4 separate regions of the Homo sapiens genome follow, and regions 2, 3 and 4 are each linked to region 1. The links come from fine-mapping of genetic effects on gene expression. A gene starts in region 1. Each other region holds a variant in brackets. All regions are shown on one strand. Distances are from middle to middle.

Region 1 (7,875 bases):
GGACCTTAGCTGTTAATGTGGATGTTAACTGGGCTAGACTCTTCTGTGTTTCTGTTTCCACACGGGAGCAGGGCCTCAGAGAGGAGTCTACCAGTACTGCGAAGGTGAAGCACTAGTGCAAAGGTGTTTAGGTCAAGTTCAGTGTCACTCGCAGGTCTAAGCCAAACTAAAATTATTCAGTCTAGCAATCCATCCCTTCCTTTTTGTTCTAGACTCCATGCTGATAGGAGAAAAACAGCACATCACAAACATTTGTGAAACTTTTTCAGCTACACAGCCCTTCCGCTTCTCTTTTAAGACTCTGCTATTCCTCTATCAGAATGGCAAGAAGGATGTGGGTAGATATAGTATGACTAAGCCCTGTAGATGATTCTGTTAGAGCTACTGCTTTTAAAGGGTTTCATAAAACCCTGTCTTTAGAAAACCTCTCCATATAACAACAGGCAGTAGGCACTCATGTCCTCTCAGCCCATCTAAATGGGGCTTCTAGAGGAATTACAAAATCCAGGCAGGTAAAGAGAAGTAGCTGCATGCACACAGTCGTCATAAGAGAAAATTCCCAAATAAATGGTCCAAGTACCTATAACTGTTAGCTCAATAAACACTTGGTTTTATCTGCTTTTACAATTTGCAAGGCTGTATAGAGGCTGTATAGTACATACTTCAGACAAATAAAGAAGGAGTTTCAGAATTCTTTTGTTTTTTTTTTCAGACAGGGTCTCGCTCTGTTGTTCAGTCTGGAGGGCAGTGGTGCAATCTCCGCTCACTGCATCCTCGACCACTGCCCCCCACCTCTCACCCCGGCAACCTCCCGGGCGAGGATCGCTCAAGGATCTCAAACGATCCTCCCACCTCAGCCTCCTAAGTAGCTTGGACTACAAGCCCACCACCACGCCTGGCTACATTTTGTTTTTTTGTGTGTTTTTTTTGTTTTTTGTTTTTTTCGTAGAGACAGAGTTTCCCTATGTTGCCCCCAGGTTGGTCTCGAACTCCTGGGCTCAAGTAATCCTTCCACTTCGGCCTCCCAAAGTGCTGGGATTACAGGCATGAGCCACCGCACCTGACCTTAGAATTATTTTATATCAAAGTTGACTTATTCACATGATGAATGGCAAGGCCTTATTAGGGACTAAAAAAATAAACCAATGGATGGGGAAGAAAATCATACTGACTAATAAACATTAGACCTGCATAACTGCCAAAGGCCTCACTTTTTAAGTTATGTTATGCAGCACAGAGTCTTCAGATTTTATTTACTTATTTATTTATTTATTTATTCATTTATTTGAGACGGACTCTCGCTCTCTCGCCCAGGCTGGAGTGCAGTGGCGCGATCTCGGCTCACTGCACACTCCGCCTCCCGGGGTTCACGCCACGCTCCTGCCTCAGCCTCCAGAGTAGCTGGGACTACAGGCGCCCGCCACCACGCCCAGCTATTTTTTTGTATTTTTAGTAGAGACGGGGTTTCACCATATTAGCCAAGATGGTCTCGATCTCCTGACCTCGTGATCCGCCCGCCTTGACCTCCCAAAGTGCTGGGATTACAGGCGTGAGCCACTGTGTCCGGCCCAGATTTTATTTTAGTCTACCAGGTAGTAGCAAACTATCCAAGGACTTGCCCAGGACCATTCAGGTCAGTGAGCTACAGAATCTAGTTCTGGAAAGGCAGCCATTCTTACTATTCACAAAGTGTAGAAAACGTGAATTCAGATTCCAGCAGCAACAAATGACTGGAGCACAAAACGCCAGCCACAGTTGGTGCTAACGCAGCTGGCTATCAGCTCCACAGGATGAAGCACTGTCCAAGGGTCTGATCAGTGAAGCATCACCCAAGACTGATGAACACAGCTGATATGAGGGGACCCAAAGTTCCCTGAGTCAAGACAGAAGAGCTGTGTCACGGTTTGCACAGAAAGAGAAAGAGCAACTATTCTTACCCACGGAAAGAAAAAGGGAGAAGGCCATCAATACTACCCTTAGGCTTGTGCAACGAGAAACTGCTAAAAATGGGGGGAAGGTATATATCCTATCATACTGATGTTTACCGAAGACTCCGCATCCCAAATGCTAAGCAACATACTGTAGGGCCTTGCTACTCAGTGTGTGGTCTGCGTGCCAGAGGCTTCAGCCTCGTCTGGAATCTAGTTAGGAACACAGTTATCTCAGAACCCACCCCAGTCCTACAGAATCAGAATCTCTAAGCGATTCGCAGGCACATCAAAGTGTGATGAGAGGCGCGGCAGAATATCTGACTACATTCTCTTAACAGCACCGTGAGACAAGTACTGTTACGATCTCCATTTCACAGAGGAAAAAAAATCAAGGGTCAGATAAGCCCCCTGCCAAAGATCACAAACTCAGGAGCGGCGAGAGTCACTGAAGTTCTCACCACAGCCAGGCCTGCGAGAGGCACTGGCAACCCAGGCCAAGAGCTGAACAAGGCCTCGATGCGCTCCAGCTCTGGGCCGGCCGGGAGGACAGGAGGCACAGGCCAAGGCCCAGGACGGTCGTGAACGCGGAAAGAGGCCGCCGCGACCTCCTCCCCGGCCGCCGCCACTCACCTGATCCTCCCGAAGGTGGGCGCCGCAACACCAAACCGGGGACGCCGCGGGCGGCGGCGACACAGATACTGGCTCCTCCGGCGACTCCGAGCCTCACAGCCCCACTTCCGGCCAACTGCCCGCTACTTCCGCCTGCTGCGCGAGTGACGGATGCGGCCGAGGCTCAAAAGACTCTGTCAGCGTTTCCCAAGGACATTTTCCACTGGAGGACGTTGTTGAGGAGGCAGGGGGAGTCTAGGACCTGCAGAGGGAAAACACCTTCCTGGATGGATCGCTCTGGAAGTCATTAAGCAGCTTAGTCCCGGCGCGGTGGCTCACGCCTGTAATCCCAGTACTTTGGGAGGCCAAGGCGGGCGGATCACCTGAGTTCAGGAGTTCGAGACCAGCCTGGCTAACGTGGTGAAACCCCCGTCTCTACTAAAAATACAAAAATTAGCCGGGCGTGGTGGCGCACGCCTATAATCCAGCTATTCAGGAAGCGGAAGCAGGAGAGTCGCTTGAACCCGGGAGGCGGAGGTTGCAGTGAGCCGATATCTCGCCACTGTACTCCAGTCTGGGCACCCCTGTACTCCAGCTCTGGGACACAGAGCGAGACTCCATCTAAAAAAAAAAAAAAAAAAAAAAAAGTAAGTAGCTTAGACACATGTTCAAATCTGAGGACCACCACTCAGGGTTTTATGGCCTTGGAGAAGTCACATAAATTCATTCTTGTTATATTATTATTATTATTTTCATAGAGACGGGGATGGCAGTGTCTTCCTATGTTGCCCAGGCTAGTCTCGAACTCCTGGGCTCATGCAATACTGCCGCCTCAGCCTCCGAAAGTACTGGGATTACAGGTATGAGCCATCGCACCCGGCCCACATAAATTCTCTAAGCCTGTACAGTGAGAAAAACAATACATTTTTTTTTTTTTTGAGACAAAGTCTTGCCCCATTGCCCAGGCTGGGGTGCAATGGTGCAATCATGGCTCACTGCAGCCTCAACCTCCTGGGTTCAAGTGATCCTCCTGCCTCAGCCTCCTGAGTAGCTAAGACCACAGGCATGCACCACCACACCTGTCTAATTTTAACAATGCATTGGTCGGGTGTGGTGGCTCACACCTGTAATCCCCGGTGTTGGAGACCGGCCTGGCCAACATGGTGAAACCTCGTCTCTACTAAAAATACAAAAAAAAATTAGCGGGGCATGGTGGCGTGCACCTGTAACCCCAGCTACTTGGGAGGCTAAGGCAGGAGAATCACTTGAACGCAGGAGGTAGAGGTTGCAGTGAGCCGAGATTGCACCACTGCACTCCAGCCGGGGCAACAGTGAGACTCCATCTTTTTTTTTTTTTAATGCATTTATAATAGAGATGTATCTGTAAAGTGCTCTCAGGAAAAGAGCTAGTGACATGATGGATAGATGAGCCTGCTGAGAGAAATGGATGTGGAGCTGGGGCTTAGCGAGGCCAGAGCTATGGAGCATGAGCCAGGGTGATTCTCCACCACCCTAAGAAGGAGGGCTGGGTCCTACTGGGTACATATATTGACACAGCTGTCAGTATAGGTACCTAGACAAGAAAGAGACTCTACTAAACCTCTACCTATCAGAAAGTCCTGGCCCCAGGCTGCCATTCCTGAGGGCACTTGAGATCTGCTGATCAGGGTCTTCATATCTTGTCAATGCCTTGGCTCTAAGGGGTGTGAAGGAGAGCTGAGAAATCATGCTCCCTCCAGGGCCTATCTTGTAGGGAAGACAAAATCAATGTAGGAAGAACACGTCCCTGCCAGGAGGGGCAAGCCTGACATCCCAACTCCTGAGCTCTGGAGACAGCGCTGTTTGAATATCTGGAGCCCCAGACCACAGACACCACTGCTTAGGGAGGGTTCTCTCCCTCAGGCCAGACCAGGGCAAACACTATTCATTGTTATGACTCTGTCCTTGCCAGTAGAACCCAGAGAAAGCAGAGAGCCTGCCCCCAAGGAATGAACCATGTTTGTTCCTAGGCAGCCATGACAATCCTGTTTCTCTTTGTAATACTCAAATTCCCATTCTCCCTTGAAGTGGGAGGAGCATGTGGCTCAGTTCTGGCCAACAGGACTTAAAGGGAAGGGTCCTGGGAGGGCTCTGGGAAAGCTTTTACTTTTCATGATAAAGTAGGGCCGCCTCAATGTCTTCATGGAGCTGTGGCAGCCACTTTGTGGTAAGGAGGGAACAACATGCCAAGGATGGAACAGTGGGAGGATGAAAATCTAGGTCCCCGAGGATCCAACAACCATGACACCACCTCCGGATTTCTTGTCAGGTTGGGGAAAAATAAACCACTCTTTGAGGTCCTTTGATTACTTACAGCAGAGTGCATTCTTGATTGTGTGCTTTGAGAGGATGACAGAGGAACTGTTGTAAAGGGAAGCTCTCTGCTGTGCAGCACGCTTGGGTCCCTTTTGCCTTTGGGGCTTCGCCATTAATTGCAAACCTGTTCCCAGTCTTCACTTCTATCCATTCAGCCCGCAAACATCTACCAGTTGCTGTAAGGTGGCTTAGGCGACTGCAGGCTGCATCTAGCTGTCCTGCGTCACCTGTTTTCTGGCTAGCAGCTTAGTGTCCAGATTCTGAGCTGGAGCCAGCTTTTAACCCCTTTGGCAACAGTCTGAGCTGAAGAGAAAGCCCCACTGGGCATATACATGGCACCACGACTCTTCCCGGGCAACGTGGCAGAACTTGGGCTTTGGGCCAACCTCCTAGCACGGCCCAGTGAGCACCTCCAGTCTCATGCCTCCTCTGGGAAATCTGTTTACTCCAGCTTTGCCCCCATCCCCCACCCGGGCCTCACCTCCCGCACCTGCAAAGACACAAGCAGGCCAAAGAATACCACTCAAGAGGCTTTTTCCGTTTTATTTCTTTGGGAAAGGAAAACAAAAAGTCTTTCCATCACATATGGTAGAGATATATATTTATATATATTTATATATAATTTCTTTTGTGGTTGGACGTCCCAAAGCTGAGTCTGTTCATATTTTTTTCTATTTTTTTCTTACTAATGCCTTCTCTTCTCCCTGCCCCTGTGGCCTAGGCCCAGGTTCTAGGGCAGGTACAGTGAGGGGTGAATGGAATGGGCAGTGGTCGCCAGGATGGCCTCCCACCCAGCTCAGAGACCTGGTGAGGACCACCCAGAAGGGCTGTGCAGAGGGTTAGAGGCCACACAGAGGGGCACTCATGTTTTTGTGGGGGATGCACAGCTCATTAAACAGTCACCAGTCATGGGAGGAGGCTGGTCAGGGGCTAGGGGACTTGCTCACAGTAGTTGCCAGCTCTCTCCACCTTGCCCCCCAAAACTCAGTCTTGGGGGTGGGAGGAAGAGAGTGAAAAAGAGAGAGATATAAGGGCTGAGGGCCAAGCCTCCTCCAATTTTTATTGCTGGTGAATTAGAAATTTGCTTTTCCCTTCCTGTCTTGGGGAGATAGACTCTGAGAGGGCCCCAAGAGAAGCAGCTGACATTGGCTGACCTAACCCCTCATGCCAGGCCTACCCTGGGCAGGTGCTGAGCCACCTCAGGGCGCCAGGAACCTCTCAGGTCAGCCTTGTTCTTCAAGGGCAATCACATCCAACTCTCCCCCCGCCCCCAAAACAAGGGCCTCCGGCTCAGACTTGGGCCAGTGGAGCTGGGAAGTGGGCAGTGCACCAAAGGTCAAGCGGAATTTTCTATTGGAAGAAAAGGTGAGACTTTGGGGAAGAGACTGCCTAGGAAGATGATGTGCTGAGCATGAAAGCAGAAAGAGGCTGGGGGAATAGAGTGCGGGAAGACATCGCAGACACTCGTCTGACCTCAGAAACTGGGCGAGGAGAGTGCCTGAGAGGCAGGTAGCACTTAATAGCTGTGTTAGAGCCGGACAGTGGTCCTGGGTGTGGGGTCAGCCAAGCAGATGGGGCTGTTGCCCTGCGGGATCCTGGCCAGAAGGGTGAGGGTAGAGCCGAGAAGCCGTCAGGCAACGCTTCCCAAGAACAGGAGGACAGATCTTCCCTGGGTGCTGGACTTCCAGCCCCAGTCCTCCCCTCCCGCAACACACACACAGGGACACACACTCACAACCAGGCCAGGCTCTGAGGCCTGAGTCCAAGAGATCTTGTTGGGGGAGGGGCTGGGCAGGTAGCCCTCTCAGCCAAAGGCAGGCCATCTGCTCCCACTTGTCCTGCCAATCTGCCCAGGGAGGGAGAGCACTGTAGGAGGGAGAGAGGTCTGGAGCCCAGGCTCTGTCAGTTTCAGCAAACCTGGTGCAGGCCCCCTCAGGCTCCATGGCCTAGGAGGTGAGCACAGAGAGCATCACTAGACACAGGGTGGCCAACAGTAGCAGCCCAGGCCTCCAGAAGGACTGGGGCACCTTATGGCACTGCACGTCTGCTGCCTCCATCTCCAACAAGGGGGTGCCGAGAAAGGGAGCATGACTCCCCCACCACCTAGGATTGCCCCCACTCACCCTGCCCTCCTCCTATTCCCTCCTTTTAGGGGGGTCCAAGTGGGCTGCCACGGGGGCAGTGCTGGAGCTAGGAGGGCAGGTGGGGAGGGAGGAACCTGGTCACAGCTGCTTAGAGAACCTCTTTGGTCTGGGGTTATGGGGTCTATGGGGAAGAGAGATGGAGGGGAGGGGACACTGGGGACTCTGGCCTTTTGACAGGACATGTGTCAAAATGCCGAGTGCCCAGGTCGATCAGATTTCTGTGGACTCAATGCGCTCGAGGCGGGAGGGGGTCCAGGCCTTCTTCTCCTCGCCATGCTGGGGAGTGGGCGTGCTTGCACCCCCTGCGGCCCCGCGCTCCCGCAGCCTGCGCTCCAGCTGCTGGTTGCGCTGGTACATCTCCACGTAGCTCAGCTGCAGCTGCTTCTGGTACTCGATCACCTTCTCCTTCTCCTCCAGCCACACGCGGCGCTCCTCGGCGAAGCTGGCACCCTGGCGCTCCCGGGCCCGCCGCTCAGCCGCCAGCTCGGCCTGCAGCCGCCCCACCTCCCGCCGCAGGGCCCGCGTCCCGCTCTCCCCGCCAGCCTCCGCCTCCCCGTCCACGGAAACCAAGGAGGCGGCAGCGGCCACCCCGGCCTGACGGCGCATCTTAGCCTCGTCGCTCTCGCAGGTGGCCAGAGCATCCTGTGGCTCGGCCGGGTCCACGGGGGTCAGCGCCGGCTTGAGGCAGGCGGCAGGCAGCTCGCCTTCGCCCAGCTCCAGGCTGGCCTGCTTGCTGCTGAAGGAGTCCCGCAGGCTGAGCAGCTGCTCCTCCTTCTCCCGCAGCGAAGCCCGGCCCTCCCGCAGCTGCGAGCGCAGTCCCACGATCTCACTCAACT
Region 2 (7,875 bases), 21 kb before region 1:
GGTACTAACTACTTAGGAATAAACTGGTAATCCCATTTTTCCTTCGGCATTTTCTTCCTTTAGTTTTTCTCTTTTTATTCTTTTTTTTTTTTTGAGGGAGGGGCATTCTTCAAAAGGAGGAAAATGAACTATGTATAATGTATTACTGAGCATCTCACAAGGATTTCAAAGCTACTTTCTAAGAGATTGTTTATTTTTATTTTTTATTTTTTTTGAGACAGAGTCTCTCTCTGTCACCTAGGCTGGAGTGCAGTGGCACAATCTCGGCTTAATGAAACCTCCACCTCCCAGGTTCAAGCAATTCTCCCACCTCAGCCTCCCGAGTAGCTGGGATTACAGGCATGCGCCATCACACTCGGCTAATTTTTTGCATTTTTAGTAGAAATGGGATTTCCCCACGTTGGCCAGAGTGGTCTCGAACTCCTGACCTCAAGCGATCCACCCACCTCAGCCTCCCAAAGTGCTGGGATTACAGGCGTGAGCCACTGTGCCCGGCCTTAATATTACTATTATTTTGAGATGGAGTCTTGTTCTGTTGCCCAGGCTGGAGTGCAGTGGCATGATCTCAGCTCACTGCAAGCTCCACCTCCCAGGTTCACGCCATTCTCCTGCCTCAGCCTCCCGAGTAGCTGGGACTATAGGCGCCTGGCACCATGCCCAGCTAATTTTTTGTATTTTTAGTAGAGACGGGGTTTCACTGTGTTAGCCAGGATTATCTCAATCTCCTTACCTCGTGATCCACTCACCTTGGCCTCCCAAAGTGCTGGGTTTACAGGCGTGAGCTACTGCACCCAGTCCCTGTTTTTCTGAGACAGTGTCTCACTCTGATGCCCGGGCTGGAGTGCAGTGGGGCAATCTCGACTCACTGCAGCCTTCACCTCCCGGGTTCAAGCAATTTTTGTGCCTCAGCCTCCCAAGTAGGTAGGACTACAGGCATGACCCATGCCTGGCTAATTTTCGCATTTTCAGTAGAGACAGGGTTTCACCATGGTAGCCAGGATGGTCTCGAACTTCTGACCTCAAGTGATCCACCTGCCTCGGCCTCCCAAAGTGCTGGGATTACAGGCGTGAGCCACCACACCCAACCAGAAATTGTTTCTTTTTAAAAGATCTAATTAAACTTTTAAAGATAATTGTAGACTCATGTGTAGTTGTTAAAAAACAATACAGAGAGATCCCACATACTCTTTCAGGCTCACTGCAACCTCCGCCTCCTGGGTTCAAGTGATTCTCCTTGAGTAGCTGAGATTACAGGTGCCCGCCACCATGCCTGGCTATTTTTTGTATTTTTAGTAGAGACGGGGTTTCAACATGTTGGCCAGGCTGGTCTTGAACTCCTGACCTCAGGTGATCCACCCACCTCAGCCTCCCAAAGTGTTGGGATTACAAGTGTGAGCCACCGTGCCTGGCTGTAACATCTTGCATAGCTATACTAGAACTTCATAACCAGCCTACTGATACTGGTAATGATTCACCGATTTTCAGATTTCACCAGGTCTGCATGCATTCATTTGTGTGTGCCTATCTAATTAGTTCAGTGCAATTTTACTCTATGTGCAAAGTTGGGTAATCACAACCACAGTTGATACAGAACACTTTTATCACAAGAATTTCATGTTATCCTTTAGAAAGTCTTTTATCTTATAAATCCAAATACTCTACTTCCACAGAAGTCTTGAAATTTTTCACCCAGATCTAAGCCTTGGCTGAAGACTCCAGTTAAGCTCACTGCCCACACTGTAAGAAACAAACTTGAGTGACACATTTAGTCTTGGCATTCATGTCACTTAAATGATAAATATAACTATGCAGGAAAATGCAAAAGTATATATAGGCTGGGCATGGTGGCTCACGCCTGTAATCCCGGCACTTTGGGAGGCCAAAGTGGGCAGATCACTTGAGGTCAAGAGTTTGAGATAAGCCTGGCCAACATGGTGAAATGCTGTTTCAACTAAAAACACAAAAATTAGCCAGCCATGGTGGCGCATGCCTGTAGTCCCAGCTACTCAGGAGGCTGAGGTGAGAGAATGGCTTGAACCTGGGAGGCGGAGGTTGCAGTGAGCTGGGATCACACCACTGCACTCCATCCAGCCTGGGCGACAGAGGGAGACTGTCTCAAAAAAAAAAAAAAAAGTATTATGAAAGTATTATGATCATACATTTGTTAAAAATCTATGTCTAGGAATATGTATACATAAATAGTTGGAGAGGTAATGGTGGGCATGCAGAAATGTAAACATCCGACATACTAGGCTGGTGGGATAAGTTGTTCTTCTTTTCCTTTTATGTATTGAAAGTTGATGTATGCCTGAGGTCTCAGGATAACAGCGGAGAAGACTGAGATTTATGTTCAGAGTACTTTTTGCAGCTGCCAGTACTAGGGCTCAGAAAGGGAAGTGCAAGGGAAGGGCCAAGAAGGGATCCAGGAGTTGAGTGGCCAACTGTCTTGGCATACCCACAGCTAAGGAGTTTTCCAGAACATAGTACTTTTGGTGCTAAAACCTGGGCAAACTTGGAAGAGTTGGTTGCCCTGTCTCGAAGGTTGTTGTCTGTGCTTCCTTGGAGCTTGAAGCAACCAACAAACCTTTTGTTTTTGGTGTTGAGGTTCAGCACCTGGGGGTAGGGAAGTGTGGAAGGATAATTTAGAAGAGAATAAGGTGACCATGACACTTTCTGAACACCTCAGCATCCAGCTTCCTTCAGCCTACAAAGTTACCATAGCTGCGTTATACAATCTGATTTTGAGTCTCA[T/G]AGAGATGTAATGAAAAGTAATTCTGGCAGACACACATATTTTAAAGACTAGACTCAAACAGGTTACAGAAGGGAAAAAAAAGAAGAAGAAAAGATTACCTGTCAAGTAAGAGAAAAGCATTTCACCTCAAAGAGTGGGTGGAATATCAATGCACTGAGCAATTTCATAAATTGGGCACTTCAGCTTTTAAAGAAGTGCACTACTTCTTATAATTTCTAAATTGAGTTACCTGTCCATCCATGAAAAAAGTTTGACTCATGTGCCTTTTTCTTACAACTGGTTAAAATGAAAGACAGTTGTCCCAGCCCATCCCACACAGTTACCCACCAGTGAGAGGTATGCAAAAAAACCAGAACACAGGTTAGAGCCCCAAAGAAGCCTGCAGTTTTATACCACGTGGAGCCAAGTCACCCTCTAAGGGCTTAACATGTGCTAGGCACAAGTAGACTCAGTTTTTCCTCTTTATTTTTAATTTTTATTTATTTATTTATTTATTGAGACAAGAGTTTTGCTCTTGTTGCCCAGGCTGGAGTGCAATGGCGCGATCTCGGCTCACTGCAACCTCCCCGTCGTGGGTTCAAGCGATTCTCCTGCCTCAGCCTCCTGAGTAGCTGGGATTACAGGCACCCACCACCACACCCAACTAATTTTTTTGTATTTTTAGTAGAGACGAGGTTTCACCATGTTTGCCAGCCTGGTCTTAAACTCCTGACAGCCTGGTCTTAAACTCCTGACCTCAGGTGATTCACCCACCTTGGCCTCCCAAAGTGCTAGGATTACAGGCGTGAGCCACTGCACCCAACCTATTTTTATTTTTTGAGACGGAGTCTTGCTGTGTCACCTCGGCTGGAGAGCAATGGTACGATCTTGGCTCACTGCAACCTCCGTCTCCTGGGTTCAAGCGATTCTCCTGCCTCAGCCTCCTGAGTAACTGGTATTACAGGCATGCACCACCACACCCAGCTAATTTTTTTATTTCTAGTAGAGATGGGGTTTCACCATGTTGGCCAGGCTGGTCTCGAACTCCTGACCTTGTCATCTGCCCACTTGGGCCTCCCAAAATGCTGGCATCATAGGCATGAACCACCACACTCGGCCTTTTTACTTTTTTTTTTTTTTTTTTTTTTTTTGAGATGGAGTCTCACTCTGTCACCCAGGCTGGAGTGCAATGGTGCAATCTCAGCTCACTGCAACCTCCACCTCCTGGGCTCAAGCGATTGTCCTGTCTCAGCCTCCTGAGTAGCTGGGATTATAGGCACACACCATCATGCCCAGCTGATTTTTGTATTTTCAGTAGAGATGGGGTTTCACTATGTTGGCTAGGCTGGTCTCGAACTCCTGACCTCAGGTGATCCGCCCACCTTGGCCTCCCACAATGCTGGGATTACAGGCGTTGAGTGAGCCACCGCACCCAGCCCAGTTTTTACGTTTAAGAAATGTATAGGCTCAAAACAAGGCACAGATAAGCCGTCTTTCTCCTGAGAGACTCAGTCTCAAAACAAGATCTACAAAGGTTTTTACTACCATTTACTCAGCACCTTAGTAACAGTGTCAGCAAAATTCTACGGGAACCCAGGTGAGGTGGCCAGTCTCTCCAACATAAAACCTGACCCTAACCCTAACCCTTTCCCTCTCCTCCATGGCCTACTCCATCTGCTCTTGCTTCTCTCCTGAATTTTCAACTTACCTCTGACTACTGAAACCTATCGTCAACATGTAAACACATTCAAGGCTCTTCTGCCAACTCCTCCCACAAAAAACCACGCTGGTTTAATGGTGCATCTTTCTTAGGGTTACCAGATTTTTTTTTTTCAACTTTTATTTTAGATTCAGGAGACACATGTGCAGGTTTGTTACCTGGGTATATTGCATGATGCTTAAGGTTTGGGGTACAAATAATCATGTCACCCAGGTACTGAGCATAGTACTAACAGTTTGTTTTTCAACCTTTGCTGCCCCCTCTCCCCTCCCTCTCTCCCATCTATTTTTTTTTTTAGGGTTGCCAGATTTTTTTTTTTTTTTTTTTTTAGACTGAGTCTCACTCTGTCACCCAGGCTTGAGTGCAGTGGCACAATCTCAGCTCACTGCAACCTCTGCCTCCCAGGTTCAAGTGATTCTCCTGCCTCAGCCTCCCAAGTAGCTGGGATTACAGACACGTGCCATCATGCCCGGCTAATTTCTGTATTTTCAGTAGAGACGGGGTTTCAACATGTTGGACAGGCTAGTCTTGAACTCCTGACCTCAGGTGATCCGCCCGCCTCAGCCTCCCAAAGTGCTGGGATTATAGATGTAAGCCACCACACCCGGCCAGTTGCCAGGTTTAACAAATAAAAATAAAGAATGTTCACTTAATCTGAAAAGTGGTGTGTGCTGAAAAAATTTTAAAAATAAAGAATATTTGCTGCATATTATATTTATTGAACAATCAGCAAACTAGGAATAAAAAATAACTTCCTCATCAGGTGTGGTGGCTCACACCTGTAATCCCAACACTTTGGGAGGCCGAGGCAGGTGGATTACCTGAGGTCAGGAGTTTTTGATACCAGCCTGACCAACATGGAGAAACCCCGTCTCTACTAAAAATACAAAGTTAGCTGGGGGTGGTGCATGCCTGTAATCCTAGCTCCTTGGGAGGCTTAGGCAGGAGAATCACTTGAACCCGGGAGGCGGAGGTTGTGGTTAGCCGAGATTATGCCATTGCACTCCGGCCTGGGCAACAAGAGCGAAACTCCGTCTCAAAAAAATAAATAAATAAAAATAAAAAATAACTTCCTCAACATGATAAAAGGTTTATAAAAACCCCATAGTTAACATCATACTCAGCCGGGAGTGGTGGCTCATGCCTGTAATCCCAACACTTTGAGAGACTGAAGCAGGAGTATTGCTTGAGCCCAAGAGTTCAAGACCAGCCTTGGCAACATAGAAAGACTCCACTCTACAAAATATAAAAATTTAGCCAGATGTCGTAGTGTGCCCACAGGTGGTCCCAGCTACTTGGAAGGCTGAGGCAGGAGGATCACTTGAACCTGGGATTTTGAGGCTGCAGTGAGCCATAATCATCCCACTGCACTCCAGCCTGGGCAACAGAGTGAGACCCTTTTTCTTTTCTTTTCTTTTCTTTTTTTTTTGCCTCAGCTACTTGGAAGGCTGAGGCAAAAGGGATCACCTGAGTCCAGGAGGTCGAGGCTGCGGTGAGCCATGATAGTGCCACTGCACTCCCAGTATGGGCAACAGGGTGAGACAGTCTCAAAAAGAAAAAAAAAAAAAAAAGGTCAGTATTGGTGGCTCACACCTATAATCCCAGCACTCTGGGAGGCCAAGGTGGGCAGATCACTTGAGGCCAGGAGTTCGAGACCAGCCTGGGCAACATGGTGAAACCCCATCTCTACTAAAAATACAAAAAAAAATTGGCCAGGCATGGTGGCTTATGCCTGTAATCTCAGCACTTTGGGATGCCAAGGTGGGCAGATAACCTGAGGTCAGGAGTTTGAGACCAGCCTGGCCAATTTGGCGAAACACTGTCTCTACTAAAAATACAAAAAAAATCACCCAGGCGTAGTGGTGGGTGCCTATAATCCTAGCTACTATGGAGGCTGAGGCAGGAGAATCTCTTGAACCCGGGAGGTGGAGGTTGCAGTGAGCTGAGATCGTGCTACTACACTCCAGCCTGGGTGACAGAGTGAGACTCCGTCTCAAAAAAAAAAAAAAAAAAAAGGTGCCGGGCTTGGTGGCACACTCCTGTAATCCCAGCTACTTGGGTGGCTGAGGCACGAGAATCGCTTGTACCTGGGTGGCAGAAGCTGCAGTGAGCAGAGATCACGCTACTGCACTCCAGCCTGGGCGACAGAGAGAAACTCTGTCTCAAAAAAAAAAAAAAAAAAAAGAAAAGTATGTGTATATACCCAATGGTAGGTGAAAGACTGGAAACATTCCCCTAAAATCCAGAACAAGACAAAGATGCCTACTTTCATTGTTTGTATTCGATATCTTATTAGAAGTTCCAACCAGAGCAATAAGGCAAGAAAAAAGAAAAAAAAGGAATCCAAAGTGGAAAAGAAGATATAAAACTGTATTCACAGATGAAAAGAGCCTATATATAGGAAATTCTGAAAAATTCACACAGCAACAAAAAAAATTATTAGGGCTAACAAATGAATATTAAGCACAATAGCAGGTTAATCATCTGTCTTTTTTTTTTTTTTTTTTTTTTTTTTGAGACAGAGTCTCTGGCTCTGTTACCCAGGCTGGAGTACAGTGGCATGATCTCAACTCAATGCAACCTCTCTGCCTCCTAGGCTCAAGTGATTCTCATGCTTCAGCCTCCTGAGTTGCTAAGGTGTGTGCCACCACATCTGGCTAATTTTTGCATTTTTAGTAGAGACAGGTTTCACCATGTTGGCAAGGCTGGTCTCAAACTCCTGGCCTCAAGTGGTCTGCCCGCCTCAGCTTCCCAGAGTGCTGGGATTACAGGTGTGAGCCGCCATGCCTGATTAATCATCTGTATTTCTAAACACTCACAATTAACAACTCATAAAAGAAGTTTTAAAAACAATTGCATCTACAATAGCATAAAAAAGAATAAAATAATTAGGAATAAAGTTAACATCGGGGTACAGTGGCTCACACCTGTAATCCCAGCACTTTGGGAGGCCGAGGTGGGTGGATCACGAGGTCAGGAGTTCAAGACCAGCCTGGCCAAGATGGCGAAACCCTGTCTCTATTAAAAATACAAAAAATTAGCTGGGCGTGGTGGCAGGTGCCTGTAATCCCAGCTACTCGGGAGGCTGGGCAGAGAACTGCCTGAACCTGGGAGGCGGAGCTTGCAGTGAGTCGAGATCGCACCACTGCACTCCAGCTGGGTGACAGAGTGAGACTCCGTCTCAAAAAAACAAAAAAAAAATTAGCCAGTTATGGTGGCATGCACCTGTAGTACCAGCTACTTGGGAGGCTGAGGTTAGAGGATCGCTTGAGCCCAGGATTTGAGGCTGCAGTGAGCTACGATCACATCATTGCACTCCAGCCTGGGTGACAGAGCGAGACCCTATATCAAACAAAACAAAACAAAAAACTAAGAAAATGTAAGATTTATACACTGAAAACTATAAAACATTCCTGAATTAAAA
Region 3 (5,000 bases), 41 kb before region 1:
GACAGGCAGAGTGGGTATTCCAATACTATTCAATTGTTCCACAGCACAGAAAAGAAAAAATTCTAAATTCTTTCTATGGAACAAAAAAATCATCAATGACACCTGACCAAAGATGGCACACACACACACACACACACACACACACACACACACACACTACAGTCCAACCCCACTAATGAATACAAAAATCCTAACACTAGCAAACAGAACCATTAAAATCTATTAACAGGGGCCAGGCGCTGTAGCTCATGCCTGTAATCCCAGAGTTTTGGGAGGCCAAGGCGGGTGGATTGCCTGAGCTCAGGAGTTTGTGACCAGCCTGGGCAACATGGTGAAACACCGTCTCTAATAAAATACGAAAAATTAGCCGGGTGTGGCGGCATGTGCCTGTAGTCCCAGCTACTCAGGAGGCAGAAGCAGGAGAATTGCTAGAATCCAGGAGGCAGAGGTTGCAGTGAGCCAAGATCGCACAAGTGCACTCCAGCCCGGGCGACAGAGCGAGACTCCGTCACTATATAGATAAATAAATAAATAACAGGGCTGGGCGTGGTGGCTCACACTTGTAATCCCAGCACTTTGGGAGGCTGAGGCAGGCAGATCACCTGAGGTCAGGAGTTCAAGACCAGCCTGGCCAACATGGCGAAACCCCATCTCTACTACAAATACAAAAATTAGCCAGGCATGGTGGCGAGCGCCTGTAATCTCAGCTAATCAGGAGGCTGAGGCAGGAAAATCACTTGAATCCGGGAGGCGGAGGTTGCAGTGAGCAGAGATTGCGACACTGCACTCCAGCCAGGGCGACAGAATGAGACTCTGTCTCAAAAAATAAAAATAAAAATAAAAAAAATTAGCCAGTATGGTGCTGTGCGCCTGTAGTCTTGGCTACCGAGGCAGGAGAATCACTTAAATCCCAGCAGCAGAGGTCGCAGTGAGCAGAGATTGCGTCACTGCTGCACTCCAGCCTGGGCGACAGAGGGAGACTGTTTCCAAAAAAACAAAACAAAAAGAAACCATTAACAGGCCGGGCACTATCGCTCATGCCTGTAATCCCAGCACTTTGGGAGGCTGAGGCAGGTAGATAACCTGAGGTCAGGAGTTCAAGATCAGCTTGGCCAACATGACAAAACCCAGTCTATACTAAAAATACAAAAATTAGCTGGGCACGGTTGTGGGCACCTGTAATCCCAACTACTCTGGAGGCTGAGGCAGGAGAATTGCTTAGACCAGGAGGCAGAGGTTGCAGTGAGCCAAGATTGTGCTATTGCACTCCAGCCTGGGTGACAGAGTGAGACTCTGCCTCATAAAAATACAAAAATCAGCCAGGTGTAGTGGCTCACACCTGTAATCCCAGCACTTTGGGAGGCCGAGGTGGGTGGATCATGAGGTCAGGAGATCAAGACCATCCTGGCTAACACAGTGAAACCCCGTCTCTACTAAAAGTATTAAAAAAATTAGCCAGGTGTGCTGGCGGGCGCCTGTAGTCCCAGCTACTCAGGAGGCTGAGGCAGGAGAATGGCGTGAACCAGGGAGGCGGAGCTGGCAGTGAGCCAAGATCGCGCCACTGCACTCCAGCCTGGGCGACAGAGCGAGACTCCGTCTCAAAAAAAAAGAAAAAAAATCAGCCAGGCGTGTTGGCACGCACCTATAGTCCCAGCTATTCCAGAGGCTGAGGCATGAGAATTGCTTGAACCCGGGAGGCAGAGATTGAAGTGAGCCGAGATCACACCACTGCACTCTACCCTGAGTGACACAGTGAGACTCCATCTCAAAAAAAAAGGAAGGAAGGAAGGAATTATTTAGGTTGAATTACACAGAAGTTTGTCACTGATCTGTGTTCTCGAACTAAGAAATATGAAGATGGAGGCTAAGAAATCATTTCTCTTAATATTATAAATAAGCAATTAACAAATACCTTGGGAAAAATAAGAATACAA[T/C]AGAAGTGAGGAGTGTGACTTTCAAGATTACATTCTAAAAGATGGATTTCCCTCGTCTGTGCACTCTCTCTGGAACGCACAGCTCCCACACAGTACACTGCCCTATGGAGAGGCCCACAAGGCAAGGAACCGAGGGCAGCCTTGGGCCAACAGCCAACCAGCAAGTGAGGCCTCAGTCCAACAATGCATCAACGAGCTGAATCTTGCAACAATGATGTGGGTGAGACTAGAAGTAAATGCTTCCCCAGTTGATCCTTGAGATGACCACAGCCTCAGCCACCAGTTTGATGGCAGACTTGGAAGACCCTGAAGCAGAGAATCCAGCCAAGTTACGCTGGGATTTGTGATCCACAGAAGTTATGAGACAATGAATGTTTGTTGCTGTAAGCCAGTAAGTTTTGGGGTAATTTGTTACCTAGCAATAGATAACCAATACTTCTTTAACATGATAAAAACATCTATCTCAGGCCAGGCGCGGTGGCTTATACCTGTAATCCTAGCACTCTGGGAGGCTGAGGTGGGCGAATCACCTGAGGTCAGGAGTTCGAGACCAACCTGGCCAACATGGTGAAAACCTGTCTTTACTAAAAATACAAAAAATTAGCCGGTGTGGTGGTACATGCCTGTAATCCCAGCTACTTGGGAGGCTGAGGCAGGAGAATTGCTTGAAGCTGCGAGGCGGAGGCTGCAGTGAGACGAGATTGCGCCATTGCACTCCAGCCTGGGTAACAGAGTGAGGCTCCATCTCAACAACAACAAAAAAACATCTATCTCAGCCTAAGATCCAACATCCAGCTTGCCCTGAGGTATTCACACTGAACACATTCAGCTGCAGAGGTCACCCAGTGAACCAGGGCTGCTCACCTCAGGAGAGAGCAGCATCACCGGCCCTAGAAATCACTGGCAATGCCCCAGGGAAGAGGCAGGAAGCCAGGATCCTTAAATCTCATACTCAAGAATGTTGCAGGCCAGGCACAGTGGCTTGCAGATCCCAGCACTTTAGGAAGCCGAGGCAGGTGGATCACGAGGTTAACAGGTTGAGACCATCCCGGGCACCATGGTGAAACCCCTTCTCTACTAAAAATACAAAAATTAGCTGGGCGTGGTGGCGCGCGTCTGTAATCCCAGCTACTCCAGAGGCTGAGGCAGGAGAATCACTTGAACCTGGGAGGCGGAGGTTGCAGTGAGCCAATATCACGCCACTGCACTCCAGCCTGGTGACAGAGCGAGACTCCATCTCAAAAAAAAAAAAAAAAACAGAAGTCGAGTGCAGTGGCTTACATCTGTAATCCCGGCACTTTGGGAGGCCAAGGTGGGTGGATCACAAGGTCAGGAGATTGAGACCATCCTAGCTAACAAGGTGAAACCCCGTCTTTACTAAAAATACAAAAACTTAGCCAGGCGTGGTGGCGGGCGCCTAATCCCAGCTACTCGGGAGGCTGAGGCAGGAGAATGGTGTGAACCCGGAAGGCAGAGCTTGCAGTGAGCCGAGATCATGCCACCGCACTCCAGCCTGGGCGACACAGCGAGACTCCATCTCAAAAAAAAAAAAAAAAGATTGTTGCAATTTTACCTGGTGGATCCTGCCAAATGCAATAAAGAAGAAAAACAGAAAAAAACACAAAGAGAATATTGCAATTTGTCCACACATTTACTGAGTGCACCCTCTTCAGTGTGGCTTTTCTCTTCAGTAACCCTCTCCTGAAAGGAAGGCCCACAGACCTAGTCCTTTTTCCTTTTCTGTGTCCTCATGCCACATGGTGAGGGGGGCGCACAGAGAACCTCCATGCAATATATCCTTGTACCTCTGTGACGGTTAGAAATAACACCCAGAGGAGCCCACTGTCACATGAGTAACACAAAGAAGGCACCAGAAGAGATTCTCTGCTTTGAGGGACTGGTATCTTTCCTCCCAGCAGCTCTGACCAGAGGCTTCAAGCCCAGGAAAAAGTGTTGACCAGGCCAGGGCACATAAAGGGACCCCAAGGAAGGCAACAGTGCCCATGGGACCATCACCAACAGAGGAGCGAAACACGCAGACTGAAGCCTCGGAACAGATGAGAATAGACGAGAACACATGGAACCCCTCCAAGGCTCCAGGTTGTCCCTGGTCTGAAGACAAAGCTGAGGGGCCCCAGGATGGGAAACGGGAAGGAGGCAGCACAGGCACAGCCTCGGGAATGTAAGCTGGCCAAGCACAAAGCAAAGGGCAGCAGAGCTGAGAGCTCCTGGGAAGGAGATGGATGAGCCTGGCTGCGGACACAGGATGCTGAATTACCTGTCGAGCAGTCCATATGTGTCAGGCTGGGCTCATTGGTGGCTTTCATTTTCTTAGCAGTGTGCTCTGAGGTAGTGGGTAAGACCAAAGGGCTTGTGGCAGAAAAACAGGAAGCATTTACACCAAAGTTACTGTCTGGGACATGTTCAGCCTGCTCTATCTTCCTTTTCTGAGAGGGCAGAACAATGGAAGAAGGGATCACTGCCAATGCCGTCTGTGCTCTCCCAAGCAGGTGGCAGCCAGGGATGGAGTGCTGGAGCAGGAAATGGTCAATCCGGGCCTTGAGGGAGGGGTGAGGCAGGGGCTGAGAGTGCGGAGTAAAAGCTACCCCCGTGAAAGGGTCACTGGGCACTCGGCCCCATGTGGCTTCACTGCGGTTACACTTCTCCAGTGTGCTCTGGTCGATGACCTTGCCTGAGGGCAGCAGCATGGGACAAGGCATGATCTCCAGGGTGATGGGATCCAGGAACTCCTCAGGCACATCCTGAATGATCTCGGCCAGCTTCTGCAGGCTGGAGGGAGCCTGCTGGCTCTCAGGCTGGTCCCCAGGGTCACAGTCACTTTCCATGGGCAAGGCTGGAGCCTGCAGAGCCACATCCTGAGGCAGGTTCTCTGAGGTGACCAGCAGGATGCTGTCTATCACTTCCTGGGAGCAGGTCTTGGCCGGCTGACCCCACACTTCCAACCGCTTGATACAAGGGATACCGCCGCCTGTCACATGGGTGATACAGATCCTTAAGTGGGCCACGTGGCTAAGGGAAAGAGCCCCTTTATTCCAGAGCTCCTGG
Region 4 (7,875 bases), 29 kb before region 1:
GCTTCTGATACCTTTCGTGTTCTCCACGATAAGTAAAAACAAATGAAGTATCTGATGCATTGTGTCTACAAATATCCTCAGAAGCCCTATAGTTACCTCTTTTTGGCCAGGACACCAGAACTCATTTAGAGCAGCATTTCCCCCAGCTTCCCTGCCCAACTAGCATAGTAGCTTCCTGTCGGTTTGTTTTAAATGTAAAATTAAGCCATTCACTTTAATTGAATATAGAACCATTAAAATAAATATATAGCCAAGCCAATGAAATAAAACATTCCTCCTTGGAAAAGCAAGCCTAGGATGCCAAAGGAAAGCAGACAATATGCTACTGACATAGATGATGACACTAGAGACAGACATATGCAGAACGGTGCTGGCCCCAGGCAGATGGCTGAGGTTGGGGCCCTGGGACTTGAGAGGGTTTTCTTTTCACTGCTCCAGGCAGTTCCCTCTTCCCCTCTTGGCCCTGACAGAAAGCCAAGAAAAAACAAAGCCGGGCGGAGTGGCTCACACCTATAATCCGAACACTTTAGGAGGTTAAGGTGAGAGGATCACTTGAGCCCAGGAGTTCGAGATCAGCCCGGGCAACACAGCAAGACCCCGTCTCTACAAAAAAATAAAAAGATTAGTTAGGTGTGGTAGCACACACCTCTAGTCCCAGCTACTTGGGAGGCGGAGGCAAGAGGATCACTTGAAGCCAGGAGTGCAAGGTTACAGTGAGCTATGACTGTGCTATTGTACTCCAGCCTGAGTGACAGTGAGACCCTGTCTCAAAAAATAAAGTAAAATAAAATAAGAGTTCTTCTAGACTTAAATGTGGTTATTATGCTCTATGATATAGAAATGTGGAAACCTTGACTGCCCTTTCCAATATGTGTTAGATCAGACCTGAAATTAAGGAAAATCTTGGTATACCCTTAGCTACTTCTTCCCACCTCTGTGTGGAAGCGAGTCAGCCTTCTGTTCAAGCATCTCAGCTCATGAGGCTTCTCCACCCGCGTCAGGGGCTGTCAACTACCCCAGTCAACTACAAAAGCATATGGACCTAACCCTGACCAGACACAGACTACCTGCTCTCCACAGCACTCATCAAAATATAAGTTGAGGGAACATTTACAGAAGAGTGTTCAGTCCAGCCCCGTTACATGCTCCTTGGTGCTGGTCCAAGTAGCTTCTCTTGCCTCTTGTCTGGCACTCCTCGTGGCTGCTGCAGATCTTATCCCACACCACTATCTGACAGATTTCTTAGCAGTTTTGATCCTCACCAGTTGCAAAAATAAATGTAACACATTGATAAAAATTCAGTGGCCGACTTGTGACGATTCATAGGACACCAGAGTAGCAGGACATATCAGGTGATAACCATAATTTTAATCTCTAAAATATACCACTCCATTGAGCTGACCCTCAGACCAGTGCACCGGCCTATCCTCATGTTCATCCCAGCCACAACCATCACCACCCTCACCACCCCCTGCAAATACTCTTCACCAAGCTACTCATTGGCACTGTGTGACAAGGAACTTCAATAAGAAACAGCTCTTTAAAGTCAGTTACTGTTTTGTTTAGTGGACAAAATGATCATTGTCTGTTCTATATGGTATCCTCTCTTGGAGACCCATAAGAAAATTTTCTCTTTGGTCTCAGTACTAGAAGAGTTGTTTATCGCAAGCAATTCAATATTTTATGGTATGAATATGGATCACATTCCTTCTTGACTCTGGCTGTTAGAAAGCTCCGAATAAAATCTGTGGCCCATCCCTCAAATTTCTCCCTACCTGAATTATTTATTTTTATATAATAGAGCATAATATGTAAGGTAGCTTAAAATAATTTTGGAACAAAGTGGGGTATAAATATGCTGGGCATAGGGGCTCACGCCTGTGATCCCAGTACTCTGGGAGACCAAGGCAGGAGGATTGCTTGAGGCCAGAAATTTGAGACCAGCCTGGGCAACAAAGTGAGATGCCATCTCTACAAAAAATTTTAAAAATATTAGCTGGGCATGGTGGCATGTGTCCGTAGTCCCAGCTACTCAGGAGTATGGCTTGACCCCAGGAGTTTGAGGCTACAGTGAGCTATGATCACACCACTGTACTCCATCCAGACTGGGTGACAGAGTGAGACCCTGTCTCCAAAAATAAATAAATAAATAAATAAATAAATAAATAAATAAATAAACAAACAAAGAGGGTGGGGGGCATAAATAATTCTCCTTTTGGGAGACATTTAGGTTGTTTATGCCTTTTTTTTTTTTTTTTTTAAAGACAGGGTCTCACTATGTTGCCCAGGCTGGAGTGTAGTGGCTATTCACAGGTGCCATTACAGTGCACCACAGCCTCAAATTCGTGAGCTCAAGCAATCCTCCTGCCTGAGTGCCCCAAGTCCTGGAACTACAGGTATGGGTCACCAAACCCAACTTGTTTGCAACTTTTTACTACTACCTTAAGATCAAAATCTTAAGTAGATTTTTGTCATTATTTTTTCCTTTAGTACAATTTTCACTTTTTTACTCAAGGGGTCCTACATGTTTCTAGTTAAGGTTGCTATTTATGAAAGGTTCTTCTTAACCCATTAATTTTTCTAACTGGTCATTCCTATATAGGAAAGCTTTTCACTTTGGTATCTTTACTATATGTTCAGCTGTCTTATTGAACTCTTATTGATTTTAACACATTTTCAGTTGTTTTTGCTTTTTTTTTTTTTACAATCCTATTATCTCAATAATGAGAATTCCTTTCTCAAAATGGTAACTCTTATTTCTGTCTCTCATTTACTGCATTAGCCAGAACTTCCGGAATTACACAAAACAGTAAGACAGTTGCCATCCTCGTTTGTGCCCATTAGAAAATGCCTCTTTGGGCCAGGCGCAGTGGCTCACACCTGTAATCCCAGCACTTTGGGAGGCCGAGGCGGGCAGATCATAAGGTCAGGAGTTCAAGACCAGCCTGGGCAATATGGTGAAACCCTATCTCTATGAAAATACAAAAATTATCCAGGCATGGTGGCGTGAGCCTGTAGCCCCAGTTACTCGGGAGGCTGAAGCAGAAGAATCGCTTGAACCTAGGAAGCAGAGGTTGCAGTGAGCCGAGATCATGCCACTGCATTCCAGCCTGGGCAACAGAGTGAGACTCCATCTCAAAAAAAAAAAAAGAAAATGCCTCTTTGAACATAATGTTGATTGTTAGATTGAAATATCATCTTTATGTTAATAAAGCATTCTAATTTTCATATTTTTTGAAGTCAGGAATATGCTCTGAATTCTGATTTTTCTCTATATATTGTCTTTTATTATTTATCTTATCTGACAGACTAATGGGATACATTAACACTTTTTTCTAATTTTAAACCATCCTTTTTATTCCCAGGAGAGATTCTATTTGGTTGTAGCATATTGTTCTTTAAATGTACTGTACTACTGAATTTATTTTGCTCATATTTAATTTTAGATGGGATATTATTGCACATTCATGGAACATTTGCAAGCCCTGTGCTAGGCACTGGAGTATAGAGATAAAAATGAAATGGCAGTGAAACTATTCTGTATTACACTGTAATGGTAGATACATGACATTATACATTTCAAAACCTATATATTCAAAACCTGTAATTCAAAACCTATAGAATTATACAACACAGGCTGGGCGTGGTGGCTCACGCCTATAATCCCAGCACTTTGGGAGGCAAAGGCGGGCAAAGCACTTGAGGTCAGGAGTTCGAGATCAGCCTGGTCAACATGATGAAACCCCATCTCTATTAAAGATAAAAAATTAGCCGGGCAAGGTGGCGGGCACCTGTAATCCCAGCTACTGGGGAGGCTGAGGCAGGAGAATCGCTTGAACCTGGGAAGCAGAGGTTGCACTGAGCCGAGATCGAGCCACTGCACTCCAGCCTGGGCAATAGAGTGAGACACTGTCTCAAAAAAAAAAAAAAAAAAAAAACTGGGCGTGGTGGTTCACATCTGTAATCCCAGCACTTTGGGAGGCCAAGGCGTGAGGATCAGTTGAGGCCAGGAGTTCGAGACCAGCCTTGCCAACATGGTGAAAACCCGATGCTACTAAAAATACAAAAATTAGCTGGGCATGGTTGCGCATGCCTGTAATCCCAGCTACTCTGAAGGCTGAGGCAGGAGAATCACTTGAGCCCAGGAGGCAGAGGCTGCAGTAAGCCGAGATCACGCCACTGCACTCCAGCCTGGACAACAGAGTGAGACCCTGTCTCAAAACAAAACAGAACAAAAACAAAACACAAAGAATTATACAGCACAAAGAATGAACCTTAAATTATAAACTTAATAATAATTAATCAATATTGGCTCATTAGTTATAAGAAATGTACCGCACTAAGATGTTAATAGCATTAATAATACTCAATTTTTAGGTAAATCTAAACTGCTCTAAATTATAAGGTGTATTAATAATAATAATAACAAAGAAATGGCTGGGTGAAACGAGGCGTGATTGGTCATGCCTGTAATCCCAGCACTTTGGGTGGCTGAGGCGGGCAGATCACTTGAGGTCAGGAGTTCGAGACCAGTCTGGCTAACATGGCGAAATCCCGTCTCTACTAAAAATACAAAAAATTACCCGGGTGTGGTGGCAGGTGCCTGTAATCCCAGCTACTTGGGAGAGTGAAGCAGGAGAACTGCTGGAACCCTGGAGACGGAGGTTGCAGTGAGCCAAGATAGCGCCACTGCACTCCAGTCTGGGTGACAGAGTGGGACTGTCTCAAAAAAAAAAAAAAAAGAAATGGCTGGGTGGGGTTGTGTACACCTATAAATTCCAGCACTTTGGGAGGCCAAGGCAGGGGGATTGCTTGAGGTCAGAAGTTCAAGGCTAGCCTGGGCAACATAGCGAGACCCAGTCTCTACAAAAAAAAAAATTAAATAATTAATAATAATAAAGAATGATTGGGGGAAAAAGTGATTGAAAACAACTCAGGACTGAAGATCAAATTGAAATATGCAAATTGAAACGAATGAGTGTGTTGTCACAGGAGAATGGCAGATCTTTTTTAAAAATATCTTACAAATGATA[T/C]GTTTCTGTGGGAAACAGTGATGTCCAAACAGTAGGATTCCGTAAGAACCTGGTTGCTATCAAAGTCTTTAATAGGTATAATCTCATCATCTATCTTGTTCCAATACCCTGGACTTTTAAGGTCAGATGCCTTCTGCCTTAACAGAAAAAAAATAATGGCTCAACATATGAAAATGCAAACAGCCTAGCCCAGAAAGACGGCCTCCCTAGTCCTGCTGAGGAAATGGCCATGTAACTTGAACTCACTGCAAACACTGTCCAGTACTTACAAAGCATAGCCACTTTCTCCAGATGTGGCATCTAAGTACAAGAAAGACAAGGCTTGAGTATAACTTAATCTAAAACCTCAGATTGTGGCTAATGTGCCCTGCTTTCAGAGAAGTAGCTTGGAGACAGATAATAATGGCATTGTAAGATGGCAATACAGTTTATAAGAAAAAAAAAAGAATATAAAATAGTAGACACTCTTGTACCTACCACCTAGATTTAGCAAATGTTAACATTTTGCTATGTTTGCTTCTGATTTCAGTGTTAAAAGCAATATTTAAAAGATAAAAACAAAACCCAGCACCTATCCTATTTCCTCTCTCTTTTTGCCAAGGGGTAAGCTCTTTTTTTTTCTTATTTTTTTTGGGGGGGGGAAACAGGCTCTCACTCCCATGCCCAGGTTGGAAAGCAGTGGTGCAATCTCGGCTCACTGCAACCTCAACTTCCAGGGCTCTGGTGATGGGTATTCTCCTACCTCTGCCTCCCGAGTATCTGGGACTACAGGCGCGCACCACCACATCCGGCTAATTTTTGGGGGTTTTTTGGGTAGAGATGGGGTTTCACCATGTTGCCCAGGCTCTTCTCAAACTCCTGGGCTCAGGCAATCCACCCACCTTGGCCTCCCAAAGTGCTGAGATTACAGGTGTGAGCCACCTTGCCCGGCTAAGGTAAGCTTTATCTAATGTTGTCTGTCATTCAAATCAGTATAGGTATGCATATATATATATAAACTACATATAGTAGTCATGTATTTTAATATACCTTAATGATAATATATTATGTGTATCATCTTGCAACTTGCTTTTCCATTAAGCATTATATTAAGGTTTTCCATATTGAAATGTTTACATTTGGTGTATTCATTTTAACTTCCTCATATTTAATTGTATGACTAAAACAGTTTCTCCACTGCCCTATTACTTATGTTGTTTAAAATTTTTTACTATGAAAAAAATGCTGCAATAAACATTCTCTACAAATCTTCTTGTGGGAAAAATAAGAAATGAAATGAACGGCCTTCTCTGTGAGTCATGAGACAATAAAGACTTCTTTCTAACAGTGATTATATAATAGAATATATGCTTGAACCCGGGAGGTGGAGGTTGCAGTGAGCTAAGTTCGCACCATTGCACTCCAGCCTGGGTAACAGAGTGAGACCCCATCTGAAAAAAAAAAAAAAAAAAAAGGCCAGGCGTGGTGGCTCATGCCTGTAATTCCAGCACTCTGGGAGGCCAGACAGGCGGATCATCTGAGGTCAAGAGTTCAAGACCAGCCTGGCCAATATGGTGAAACCCCATCTCCACTAAAAATACAAAAATTAGCCAGGCATGGTGGCGGGCGCCTGTAATCCCAGCTACTCGGGAGGCTGAGGCAGGAGAATCACAATCACTTGAACCCGGGAGGTGGAGGTTGCACTTGGCCGACACCGTGCCACTGCACTCCAGCCTGGGCAACAAGAGCGAAACTCCGTCTCAAAAAAAAAAAAAATTTATATACATAATATAAAGGTAACAGAGCATTCTGCGGATGACACAGTAAGGAAAGATAACCTAGATCAATGTTTTTCAATTTGTGGTTTTTGGAATCAAGTAATGGGTTAAAGAAAAGAAATAATTAGAAGAGAATACAAAATATGAAGGTGCAAATAGTATGGATATGTCATGAAATTGTTTCAGTTTTGTACAAATATATTTAACAAATGCATGTATATCATCTAATATAAAATGCATTTCTTATTGTGACTTGATAAAAAAAATTTTTTTAAAAAAACGTTGGTCAAAAGTTTTGACCAAAACATTGGTCAACTCAGGGGAAAATTCACAGGAGTAAACATGTGAACTTAGGGTGACTAGGACACATGCCTGATCTCATGGACAACTCTGAAGAGGGACAGACACTCCATATTAATGCTACCACAGACTGTAGACTACAGGAGCCAAGAGGTGAGAACATGAACAAAAGAGAAGGAGCCCTGGGGAAAGGGATCAGGAAGTGTCAAGGCACAGAGGAGGGAAGTGTGAGGCTGGTTCAGGAGATGCTGAACATGCCACTTAGCTATGGAGGTGGAGTAGGAGCCACAGCTGGGAAGGCAAACGGAGCCGGATGAGGAAGGCCTTGAACGTCATGCCAAAAAGTTTAGACTACTTCACTTAGTAGGCTGAGGTAGTGTTTCCCAAACTGCAGGTTGAGAATTAAGAACTTAAATTACCGAGCCATAACTAGTATTTTTAAAAATTAAGTAGAATAGAAAATGTCAGCATGCACCACATACAAGGGTGAGCACTGTTTTGTGAAAGTTTTGTTTCAGTTACATATATATGTGAACACACAAACACACGCAATTATTCATTTGGGGTTTTGATGTAAAAGTTATTTCTTACTAAAGGTTGTAGTTAAAAAAAAAAAAGTTGAAAGCTACTGGTCAGAAGTAAGTCATCGGTGAATCATTATCAGTATCAGTAGGCTGGTTATGAAGTTCTAGTATAGCTATGCAAGATGTTACAGCCAGGCACGGTGGCTCACACCTTTAATCCCAACACTTTGGGAGGCTGAGGTGGGTGGATCAGAGAGAGAA

Which allele goes with the higher level. Alleles are on the strand shown, and positions count from the first base shown. SD is a standard deviation of normalised expression in the study named.
In carriers of allele G in region 2, the expression in prostate of the gene that starts at base 2,661 in region 1 tends to be higher than with T alone (small effect, 0.31 SD a copy in GTEx).
As copies of C replace T in region 3, the expression in sun-exposed skin of the gene that starts at base 2,661 in region 1 goes up (small effect, 0.21 SD a copy in GTEx).
As copies of T replace C in region 4, the expression in thyroid of the gene that starts at base 2,661 in region 1 goes down (small effect, 0.33 SD a copy in GTEx).

What was found. PIP is the estimated chance that this variant, and not a neighbour inherited with it, causes the effect.
Region 2: its variant is the best candidate, but not a certain one, in a credible set for the expression of UBOX5 in prostate (GTEx, PIP 0.68).
Region 3: its variant is the best candidate, but not a certain one, in a credible set for the expression of UBOX5 in sun-exposed skin (GTEx, PIP 0.50).
Region 4: its variant is the best candidate, but not a certain one, in a credible set for the expression of UBOX5 in thyroid (GTEx, PIP 0.52).

The regions. Positions count from the first base shown.
Region 1 is chr20:3,157,205-3,165,079 of GRCh38, forward strand. UBOX5 (U-box domain containing 5) reads right to left here and starts at 2,661. Exons shown (of 5, transcript NM_014948.4): 1 at 2,562-2,661. It overlaps FASTKD5 (FAST kinase domains 5), which reads right to left and starts at 2,661. Exons shown (of 2, transcript NM_021826.5): 1 at 2,562-2,661. It overlaps LZTS3 (leucine zipper tumor suppressor family member 3), which reads right to left. Exons shown (of 5, transcript NM_001365618.1): 5 at 5,413-7,875. The coding sequence ends at 7,250.
Region 2 is chr20:3,136,158-3,144,032 of GRCh38, forward strand. All of the region lies in intron 1 of UBOX5 (U-box domain containing 5), which reads right to left. UBOX5-AS1 (UBOX5 antisense RNA 1) reads left to right here. Exons shown (of 7, transcript NR_038395.1): 6 at 1. Among named protein-coding and RNA genes, the nearest start is that of FASTKD5, 20 kb to the right of the region's middle. The variant T/G (reference allele first, on the strand shown) is at 2,752.
Region 3 is chr20:3,117,172-3,122,171 of GRCh38, forward strand. UBOX5 (U-box domain containing 5) reads right to left here. Exons shown (of 5, transcript NM_014948.4): 3 at 4,213-5,000. All of the region lies in intron 5 of UBOX5-AS1 (UBOX5 antisense RNA 1), which reads left to right. Among named protein-coding and RNA genes, the nearest start is that of UBOX5-AS1, 13 kb to the left of the region's middle. The variant T/C (reference allele first, on the strand shown) is at 1,935.
Region 4 is chr20:3,128,092-3,135,966 of GRCh38, forward strand. The region is part of intron 1 of UBOX5 (U-box domain containing 5); the gene reads right to left. All of the region lies in intron 5 of UBOX5-AS1 (UBOX5 antisense RNA 1), which reads left to right. Among named protein-coding and RNA genes, the nearest start is that of UBOX5-AS1, 25 kb to the left of the region's middle. The variant T/C (reference allele first, on the strand shown) is at 5,034.